2 separate regions of the Homo sapiens genome follow, and region 2 is linked to region 1. Evidence: fine-mapped QTL for protein levels in blood plasma. A gene starts in region 1. The other region holds a variant in brackets. All regions are shown on one strand. Distances are between the middles of the regions. Region 1 holds the start of LY9 (lymphocyte antigen 9). Region 2 overlaps LY9 (lymphocyte antigen 9).

Region 1 (5,377 bases):
AACAAATGCATCATACCAAAATTTATATTAATTTAGGTTTTACTATACTTAAATGATAATACTTAAATTGGATTTTGTGTATTATAAGGCTGTGTCCTCCTATGGTCACAACTTCAAAGGAGGTCATTTCAGTGATGTTACTTTCCTAAATCTCAGTTTTCTCATCTCTAAAATGGGGATAATTGGAGTATCATCCAAATAGGGTCTATCTTAGGATTAAAGGAGAAAACATATGTAAAGTTCTAAACACAGAGGCTCACTCATAGTAATTACCCAATAAATGTTAGTAATGATTTTTATTATTACCAATCTCTCTGAATTCCCTTCTGCCTTTGCCCTCGCCTCCCATGCAGACTGTTCCTGCTCTCATGTTCTGTACCCAGACTCCTTCAATAGCTTCCGCACCTGTCTTCTCATCCCCAGGCTCATCCCTTCCACCCATTCTCCCTCCACTCTGCAGCTCCAGGAAGCTTCCTACTCCTACTGGATTCTTGTTGCCTTTAGCTTGGTAACAGGATGCTTTATCTGGGCTCTGGTAACCTCTCCTGACCGTATGTCCTGCAATCCCCTCTAGACAGCCCATGTTCTAGTCACAGGACCAAGGCTAGAGTGAAACAAGACACGCTCCTAGTGCACAAAATTTAAAGATTTTCGAGATTCTGTCACTTTCAATATTGTGCAACATCAGATCATGACCAGCCTCTAAAGATGCTTTCCATGGACATAAGCCTGTTATCTTAATGGTTTCTCTCTCTCTCTCCCTTCTTCCTTTGAACCCAGACTTCCTGGGTTCAAGTCCTTACTAACTATAAAACTTATAGTAAGCTATTTAACCCCTCTCCACCTCAGTTTTCTCATTTATAGAATGGGGATGATAAAAGATATCTCATAAAACTATTGTAAGATCAAATGAGTGAATATGTTAAAGTGTCAGAAGATGGACTAGCACTCTGTAAGCTTTCATCGAATATTAGCTAAAACTACACATTCTGCCAGCCTCAAGTTTTCCTGCCAAGTCCCCTTAATGTTACAGCCTAAGTAAACAAATGACCTGAAGCCCGAAACACAAACCATAGCATGGCCAGCTATTACGCTACTGACAAGAAGAAGGAGGAGAAAAAGACAGTTTCCCAAGTCAGGATATAGGGAATCATGCCATTCTCCAGCCTACCTTTTCAACTCAGTCACCTCTACGCTGTCACATACGATGTCCACCCCCATTGCAGTCTCCCTGATGCCTTTGTCCATATTAAAAGTCCTTCATTGCATGTGACAGAAAGCTAGCACAAACTGCCTTGAGCAAAATAGAAAATGTATTGGGTCACTGTATTAGTTATCTGTTGCTGTGTAACAAATTGCCCCAAACTTCACAGCTAAAAACAATAAGCATTTTTGATGAAAAATAAAAAATTGAAAAAAAATTTAAAAACCAAACATTTATTATCTCACAGTTTCTCTTGATAAGGAATCTGGGCATGGCTTAGCTGGGTGCCTCTGGCTTAAGGTACTCACACAACTAACATCACGGTGTCAGCCAGGGCTGCAGTCATTTCAAGGACCTCCTGGGGAGGATCCACTTCCAGTCTCACTCATGTGATTCTTGGCTAGCCTCAGTCCTCATGGACAGTTGGCCAGAGGAATCAGCTCCTCGCCGATTGTTGGCTGGGGGCCTCCCTCTGTTCTTTGTTTTGGAACCCTCTCCCTAAAGTATCTCACAAAACAATACCTGGCTCCCCTCAGTGTAAGGTAGGGAGACAGAGATAGTGGGAAAGACAGAGAGGGAGAGAGGGCAAGAGAAAGAGAGAGCGCATATGCACACACATGCTAACCCAAGATGGAAGTCACAGCTTTTTTGTAACCTAATCTCAGAAGTGACCCATCCCACATCTCTGCCACATTCTATTCACTTGAAGCAAGTCACTAAATCCAGGCCACACTAAAGAAGAGGTGATTACACAGAGGCATGAATGCCAGGAGGTACAGATCTTTAGCAGTCACCTTTAGGAGCCAAATTTAGAACCCAAGTCCCTTGATGTCAAAGCAAGTGATGCTCCACATCAGTCACAAATGAGGCCCTGAATAGACTTGGGACCTCTACCTGCCTGCGCAGATGGGAGGAGTCTGTGGTGTTTTGTATAAACAACCCTCCCTCTGAGACACACACACATACACATACACATGCACACACACACTCATATACACATGCAGAAGCTGTGACACGTGCGGAAGCTGTGGTAAGTGCATCCTCCTTCAGTCTCAGTTCTGAAAATAGATCATCATGGTGGCACCAAAGAGTCACACAGATGACTGGGCTCCTGGGCCTTTCTCCAGTAAGCCACAGAGGAGTCAGCTGCAAATATTCTCTTCTGTTCTACAGACCTCTCTCCTCTTCCTGCTCATGGGTAAGTCCACTTTATGGCCACCACTTCTTGCTACTGCGGTTCTTCTGAGGCCAGTTGCATTCCCTGCCTGGGAGATTCTTTTTTTTGTTTTTTGTTTTTTTTAACGGAGTCTCACTCTGTTGCCAGGCTGGAGTGAAGTGGCGCAATCTCGGCTCACTGCAACCTCCACCTCCTGGGTTCAAGCGATTCTCCTACCTCAGCCTCTTGAGTAGCTGGGATTACAGGTGCATGCCAACACACCCAGCTAATCTTTGTATTTTTAGTAGGGGCAGGGTTTCACTATGTTGGCCACGGTGGTCTCGATCTCTTGACCTCGTGATCTGCCCAGCTCAGCCACCTGAAGTGCTGGGATTACAGGCGTGAGCCCAGTTCTTGTTGGTAAAATCGGGAAACTCATCTCCTTGCCAGAAATTACTTTGCATGTGTGCATATTCGTGCACTATGAAGGGGGTAACATTCTAGCCCCGGTCTCAAATAGCTCTGGGCTCAAACTACATTTCTCTTGCCCTCACATTTTCCTAAGAAATGCCAAGTATATAATGAGTTTGTTCCCTGTATGGTGTGGATAAAACCCACAGAGGGATCCAGGAAAATCCCCTGATGAGAAGCCACCTAGCAATTTCCTAGGGATGGAGAGAACTTCTGGAGCTTCTTTCTATGTATCCTGCCTTGGTTATCATATATGCTGGCTTTATTACTGAGGTTTCACTGGGGACCTGGACGCGGTTAGGTGACCATGGGCAAGGTGGCGTTTATCTGGATATCCTTTTCTCCTCAACCTTATTCCTCCCTATCAAGGCCCAACTCCTGGGAAACATCTCTCCGCTGCATGGCCCGGAACCCCACTGTCCAGCAGATAGAGCCAATCCAGTACCCCAGAGAGGATCTCAGCCACCTGGGACTGTGGCAGCTACTGTCCTTCTGTGCTCCCGCTTTCTCCAGGGCTTCAGGGATGATGGTGCAGGTAGCACTAGAGATCTGAGAGCAGTGGGGGTTGGCAGTTGGTGCCTGAAGGGAGCTTTAGAAACACTCCTAGATGCAGATATGGGTGAACGAGGAGCCTAGACCTCAGAGCTGAGGTCCAGTCTGACCTCTTTTCACTTTCAATTTTATCTTGGCTCATCAAAACACACAGAAAGCAGCAAGGCTGTTTATGTTTACCTCCAACCTTTGGGGTGTTCCTTGATTGTGTTGAGCAAACCTGAAATAAGCTACATTCAAGGTCATCCAAGCCGCAAATGATCAATGCAGTGAATTTCAAACAGTTCAGAGCAAAGAGGCATCTCCATTGGTCTGGCTCCACTGATTAGGATGACCTCAAATCTCACTCTTTTGGTCTGAAAGGATGATGCTTTTGTATCTCCAAAGAGTCATTTCAGGAACTTAAAAGGCAGTCGAGTGAAAAGACCCCTCTCACTTTAGTATCAGGAACATCTGAAATTAAATCATTGCTCCATCATTTATTAGTGATGAGGGCCTCTATTTCTTAAGTGTAAAATATAGTTAGTAGGATGCATCATGCAACACTCTTACAGATTGTAGATGATCTATACACACACACACACACACACACACACACGTATAGTGGCACATAGTTGGCAGAAGCTATGATTGTTATTATTATAATTACTGTTACGTGCATTCTTTGGAAACTATTAAGAGACAGGTGAGTCAAATTCAGTTTTGCAATCTTTGAATGCTCTTTTATTATTTGTCCTACGGTGCAATTCAAAATAAAATGACTGGTACTGGGGACCTGTCATTGTACTGGGAGCTGCATTGCACTGTCTTCTGCAACAAGATTTGCCCTGTGAGGCCCACATCCTGCCCCCTCCACTGAGAGTCTGTGAGGCTTTTGTTTATGGTTTTTGTCTGATGTAAGAAAATTTGAAGTCAAAACGAGTCATATGCACCCAGTCAAGACCCAGCAGCTCCTGGGCTTCCAGGATACAGATGGGCAGTACTCCTGGCCTCCCTACTCCAGGGGCATCATGGACATAGGATCTGGACTCTGTGACTGATCAACCCTGTAATCTCAGGGAAGTGGATTAAATTCTCTAAATTTCAGCTCCTCATCTGTAAAAAGGGGCTAATTATAGTATAGTTATGAGAATTAAATGAGATAATTTACATAAAGTACCTAATGCACACATAGCAATCGTAAGCAGTCTCTTCCAGATGGGAAGAGCTCTCTTTTAGAAAACCTCAAACCAACCTCACATCAACTCAGCCTGAATCTGCCTAAAGAATCCACCTGACCCAACCTTCTCATGTCCAGGATCCCTAGCCCTGCATGCTCCATAGCTGCCTCTCCACAAGGTGCAAGTGCTTGGCTGATGGAGGTCTAAGCAGAGAACCCCCATGACCTGCACCAAGCAGCCTCTCTCCTTCCAGTGTCTGCATATTCTGTATCCTCTGGGTTTTCAGAGCTTGCTTCAGCTTTCTTCCGCCCCTCCAGGCTATGCTTATGCTCCTTTTTTGTCTCTAACATTTTCTACTTATTTTCCCACCCAGAATTCCTGGTGGAGTCTGGGTCCCAAACCCATCTGTTTTGGTCTAGAATTTCAAAAGTGCTCTCCAGAGCCTCGGAAGCCCTGGAATCTGGGAATCCAAGCTAGGGTCACCCAGAAGACACCCACAGGGTCCCTACAAGAAAATTAACTGCCTTGGCCAAATACCAGCTTCCTAGATGCCTTGGTAACAATGTTTATCAGGAATATGATCTTGCCTAAGATGAGGAAATCAGGAACTGTATTAGTACCACCAGCTATTCCCACCCCCAAACCTGGCCAAACCAAAGTCAATCTGAGATGCCATGGACAATAAGGGTGAGGTAGAGGTAGGAGAAGCTCCTTTAGTTCCCGACACTGCTATGAGAGTTCTCAAACATTCAGAAAAGTTGGAGCATTTACCCTGAACATTCATAGGCCTACTACCTAGATTCTAACACAAACGTTTTACTTTGCTTGCTTTAT
Region 2 (5,377 bases), 17 kb after region 1:
CAAGGAGGAAACCACCTCACCCTACCCAAGGCTTGTGCCCTCTAGGCCTATGGTGGCAGTGGCAGCTCTGCCTACTTCTGAACTGCCTGTGGGGTCACTCTTCCCTTTTCTTGAAGGATAATACATATTTGCAGCTGTACAGCTGTATTGACTTATTTCATAAAATCCCAGAAGCCTGACACACTCCTTCATTTGTCCTGTCTCTGTCCCTTACAGTCCAGACTGGCAGCATTTCTGCTGAGGTGGTCAAATCTCATAACCTCTTTAGCAAACATTGCCAAGCCACAATCTTTGTGTTCTCTCCAGACACACTTTCTCGTTTTTCGCAATATGAATAGGTGACATTTTTTCAAAGCTTTAAGTTCTGGCTCCATCTTGCTTGACAATTCCTTATTTAACCTCTCTCTCTCTTCTCACATTTTATATAAGTAGCAAGGAGAAACTAGGCAGTGCCTTCAGCTCTTTGATTAGAAATCTCCACAGCTAAGTACCCAAATTTATCACTTAAACATTCTGCTTTCCACAAAACACTAGAATACAACGTGGCCGAGTTCTTTGCCACTTTACAACAAGTATGCCCTTTCCTCCAGTTTCCAGTAACATATTTCTAATTTCTGTCTGAGACCTCACCAGCAACACATTTAATATTTATATTTTTACCAACATTCTGCTCATGATCACATATGTATATCTCTAAGGTAATAGCAGCATTCCCTGCAGTGTTCCTATTTTCTTTCTGAGTGCTCACCCAAATTTTCGTTAACATTCATGTTTCTACCCAGAGTCTCTTGAAGACAATCTAGGATTTTTCTAGCACACACCTCAAAATTCTTCCAATCTCCACCCATCAGCCCATTCCAAAGCCACTTCACATTTTTAGATTTTTAGAGCTTCATCCCACTTCTGGTATCAAAATCTGTGTTAGTTTTCTAGGGCTGCCATAACAAAATACTGCAGACTGACTAGCTTAAACAACAGAAACGTATTCCACATTTCTCCAGAACACAATTCTGGAGGCCAATGAAGGTATCAGCGGCTTGGTTTCTTCTGCGGCCTCTCTCCTTGGCTCCCACATGGCCACTTTCTCTCCATGTCTTCACATGGGTGTCCCTCTGTCTATATTGTCTGTGCTCTAATCTCATCTTCTTATAAGGATACCACTCATATCAGACTAGGGCCCACCCTAATGGCCCCATTTTAACTTAATTACTTCTATCTCCAAATATAGTTCTATCTTCAAATACGGTCACATTCTGAGGTGCTAGAGGTTAAGACTTCAACATCTAAACTTTGCAGAGACACAGTTTAGCTCATAACACCATCTTTCTATCAGATAATTTGACCGTTTTCATTGATTTGTAGGGTATTCTGTATCTATTAAGGAAACGGAATTCTGTGCAGTTAATAGAATTAGAATGAATCAACTCCACATGTGTTGACAAATGACGTACAATAATTTCCAAGATATATTGTTAATTTTTTAAGGTTCAAAACAGTGTGTAAAGTATGCATATATCTGTCTATATCTAGAATACCTCTGGAAAGATCAACAAGAAACCCATAACAGTAATTGCCTCCAGGAATAGTAATTCTTGGGGAGATGAAATAAATGGCTGGAGGCTAGAAAGCTTACTTTTTTCATTATGTAGCTTTGGTATTTTCTCAATTTTTTTTAATGTATTACCTATTCAAAAGAAGAAATATTGGGCCAGGTGCAGTGGCTCATGCCTGTAATCCCAGCACTTTGGGAGGCCAAGGCAGACAGATCACCTGAGGTCAGGAGTTCGAGACCAGCCTGGCCAACTGGTGAAACTTCATCTCTACTAAAAATACAAAAATTAGCCGGGTGTGGTGCTGTGTGCCTGTAATCCCAGCTACTCAGGAGGCTGAGGCAGGAGAATCGCTTGAACCCAGGAGGCAGAGGTTGCAGTGAGCAGTGATCACGCCACTGCACTCTAGCCTGGGTAACAGAGTGAGACTCTGTCTCAAAAAAGAAATATAACTTAATGAAACATTCACACATGTGCACATACATGGTGAGCAGTGGAGATGGAACAAAAGGAAAGGAGAAGACAAGGAAGAAGATCTAGAAGCACAATGCATCCTAAATTCAGACCAAAGACACGGGCAACTCAAATTCTAGAAGCAGAGGTCCCCACTCCATAGCGTTTGGGGCTGGGCCATTCACCTATTTATTCATTGAACATTCATGAGTGTTTTTCATAAGGCAGGCTGGGTGTTAGATGTTCAGACACAGGAATCAGCCCTGTCATCAAGGAGTTCTTACACTGGTCGGGGAGAGAGAGAAGTAATCAGACTATTAGTCATGCTGAGTCATGGTGATAACACCTGTAGCGGATGTTATGGGAGTACAGAGGAGAGGCTGTCAACCCAGCCTGCAGAGAAGATGTCCCTGCGACAGGTAACGCTGGCCTCTCTCTGCTGCCCCCAACTCCCCTATTGTCACTCCCTTCTTCTCTCAGCGCTTTCCTGCTGGCAAAAGGATCTGAGCATCTTCCCATGCTGTTGTCCCTGCAGAGCAGCTGCAGGAGCCCCAAGTCACCATGAAGTCTGTGAAGGTGTCTGAGAACTTCTCCTGTAACATCACTCTAATGTGCTCCGTGAAGGGGGCAGAGAAAAGTGTTCTGTACAGCTGGACCCCAAGGGAA[C/A]CCCATGCTTCTGAGTCCAATGGAGGCTCCATTCTTACCGTCTCCCGAACACCATGTGACCCAGACCTGCCATACATCTGCACAGCCCAGAACCCCGTCAGCCAGAGAAGCTCCCTCCCTGTCCATGTTGGGCAGTTCTGTACAGGTAACTGGCTCCAACTTGGCCCTTGAGGGAATTCCAGAAACAATATGAGCAGCTGTGGAGTCTAAACCCTAGGATCCTGGTCAGACACACAGGGGGTGGGGAAGCAAGAGGACAGGCCCCAAAACCCCTTATTCTCTACTCTCAGGGACATGACAGAGGCTGGCAGGACTTGGGAAAGCCCAGAACACTGTGATACTCTAAGGTTAGAGCAAGGGAGGAGAAGACAATATGGATACAGGAGTCCAGATTGGTCTTTGCTTGGGTGGAGGTGTTTCCGGGTACCCTCAGAAGGGCAGAGAGGGGACATGAGAGTCCAAGTATTCAGTGGGCACAGCCCAGTGGAACAGGTGGTCATGGAGAAGTAGCAGGCATGCCCCTCAGAGGAGGAGGCCAGGAGAAAGAGGAAGAGGAGGAGGGACTTCAGTCCCCTCAGTCCCCTTTAGGATGCCTGGGGGCCAAGGGAGTAGGGACAGTGACTGAAGCTGCAATGTCTCATCTGTGACCCCAGATCCAGGAGCCTCCAGAGGAGGAACAACGGGGGAGACTGTGGTAGGGGTCCTGGGAGAGCCAGTCACCCTGCCACTTGCACTCCCAGCCTGCCGGGACACAGAGAAGGTTGTCTGGTTGTTTAACACATCCATCATTAGCAAAGAGAGGGAAGAAGCAGCAACGGCAGATCCACTCATTAAATCCAGGGATCCTTACAAGAACAGGGTGTGGGTCTCCAGCCAGGACTGCTCCCTGAAGATCAGCCAGCTGAAGATAGAGGACGCCGGCCCCTACCATGCCTACGTGTGCTCAGAGGCCTCCAGCGTCACCAGCATGACACATGTCACCCTGCTCATCTACCGTGAGTCTCTGGGCAGGGCACCCATCACCAGATTCCTTCTCTGAAAGCTTTCTCCTCTGCTGCCTTCTCCACCTTCCGCTTCTCCAAGGGTCTTCCCTCATACTGAAATGCCTCAGACCACTAGGACAGCTGTTCAGTTCACACCAGTTGATTCATAGGAGGCAAACTCATGACTAGCTGCTGGACAAGTCTACCCGCCAAAGTGCCCCTGGCTCTAGGCTGCCAGTTAGGCCTCCACCACCCAACTTTAGGTGCTTGCCCCGGTCCTTCTGCACTGAGTGTCAGAAGGGACTAGGAGGCCAGGTGCGGTGGCTCACACCTATAATCCCGGTACTTTGGGAGGCTGAGGCAGGTGAATCACCTGAGGTCAGGAATTTGAGACCAGGCTGGCCAACATGGTAAACCCCGTCTCTACTAAAAACACAAAAATTAGCTGGGTTCGGTGGTGGGCGCCTGTAATCCAAGCTACTCTAGAGGCTGAGGCAGGAAAATCGCTCGAACCCCAAGGGGCGGAGGTTTCAGTGAGCCGAGATCATGCCACTTCACTCCAGCCTGAGAGAAAGAGCAAGACTCCGTCTAAAAAAAACAAAACAAAACAAAACAAAGGGACTGGGAACTCACCAACCTGCATTTTTAAATTTTTGAGATGGAGTCATGCTCTGTCACCCAGGCTGGAGTACAGTGGCACGATCTCAGCTCACTGCAACCTCTGACTACCAAGTTCAAGGGATTCTTCTGCCTCAGCCTCCCAAGTAGCTGGGACTACAGGCACACGCCACCACAACCAGCTAATTTTTGTACTTTTAGTAGAGATAGGGTTTTGCCATATTGGCCAGGCAAGTCTCAAACTCCTGACCTCAGGTGATCCGCTGCCTCAGCCTCCCAAAGTGCTGGGATTACAGGCATGAGCCATGGCACCTGGCCCCAACCTGCATTTTTATAAACTATTATCATTTTGAATAAGGCCAAAGTTGGCTGGGGTGAAATCAGAGAAGACTGAGGAGAAGCCCTTGGTGTCCAAAGACACTGTGGCCTCCAAGAAGGTGGGCCACTCAGTTCCCCTGGGGGTGAGGAACAGAATTTGCATTCTACCTCCTCAGCCCTGGGCCTCACAGGAGCTTGGCTTGGCAATTTGCATGGTTTATGTTTACCTGTTCCTTCACTTGTGCCATTCAGACATGGTCAGCATACCCCCTGCCTGAGTTTGTCAATGTCTAGGTATCTGTGAAGAGTCACTATCATGGTTTTGTTAAAATATGAAGCAAGTCGGCCAAGTCCATGCCTATTGCACACAATGCCTCAAATATAAAGGAACCCACAAGGTTAAGTAAAAATAATAAACAGGAAACAAATAGAGTCAGTCTTATTGTTTCTTTTAAAGTTGCTAACATTTATTGAACATTTACTCTGTGTCAGGTACAGCGCTCACCTCTCTGCATCCCTTATCTCATATAAGTAAACAAATCAGCCTCAAAGCCAAGCCTTGAAGGGTCTTCACAGCACATGGAAGTGTTGCGCTCATCTGTGTTGATTGGTTTGCTTGCTTTCACAGCTGTAACTAACTGTATAGAATGAGGTTGTGTCTTTCTTTCTTCACTTTTCATCATTTCCCTTGTTTCTCACCTGAGCATCAAGAGGCAAAGAGGTGTGTCTGAGATGTCACAAGTAGTGAGGAAAATGCCAGGTATACTCCAAAATTCCTGTGGCTCCTGG

Evidence for each region. PIP is the chance, under the fine-mapping model, that this variant and not a neighbour inherited with it causes the effect. Protein levels are from antibody-based Olink assays in UK Biobank. Linkage for the fine-mapping came from a reference panel and not from the study's own genotypes, which makes the PIPs less certain.
Region 2: its variant is fine-mapped to the plasma level of the LY9 protein (UK Biobank, PIP 0.98). The variant lies in the coding sequence of LY9. If it changes the protein, the assay may bind it differently, which can mimic a change of level.

What each region holds. Positions count from the first base shown.
Region 1 is chr1:160,793,910-160,799,286 of GRCh38, forward strand. It overlaps LY9 (lymphocyte antigen 9), which reads left to right and starts at 2,265. Exons shown (of 10, transcript NM_002348.4): 1 at 2,265-2,402. The coding sequence starts at 2,279.
Region 2 is chr1:160,811,098-160,816,474 of GRCh38, forward strand. LY9 (lymphocyte antigen 9) reads left to right here. Exons shown (of 10, transcript NM_002348.4): 3 at 2,539-2,814; 4 at 3,323-3,664. Among named protein-coding and RNA genes, the nearest start is that of LY9, 18 kb to the left of the region's middle. The variant C/A (reference allele first, on the strand shown) is at 2,670.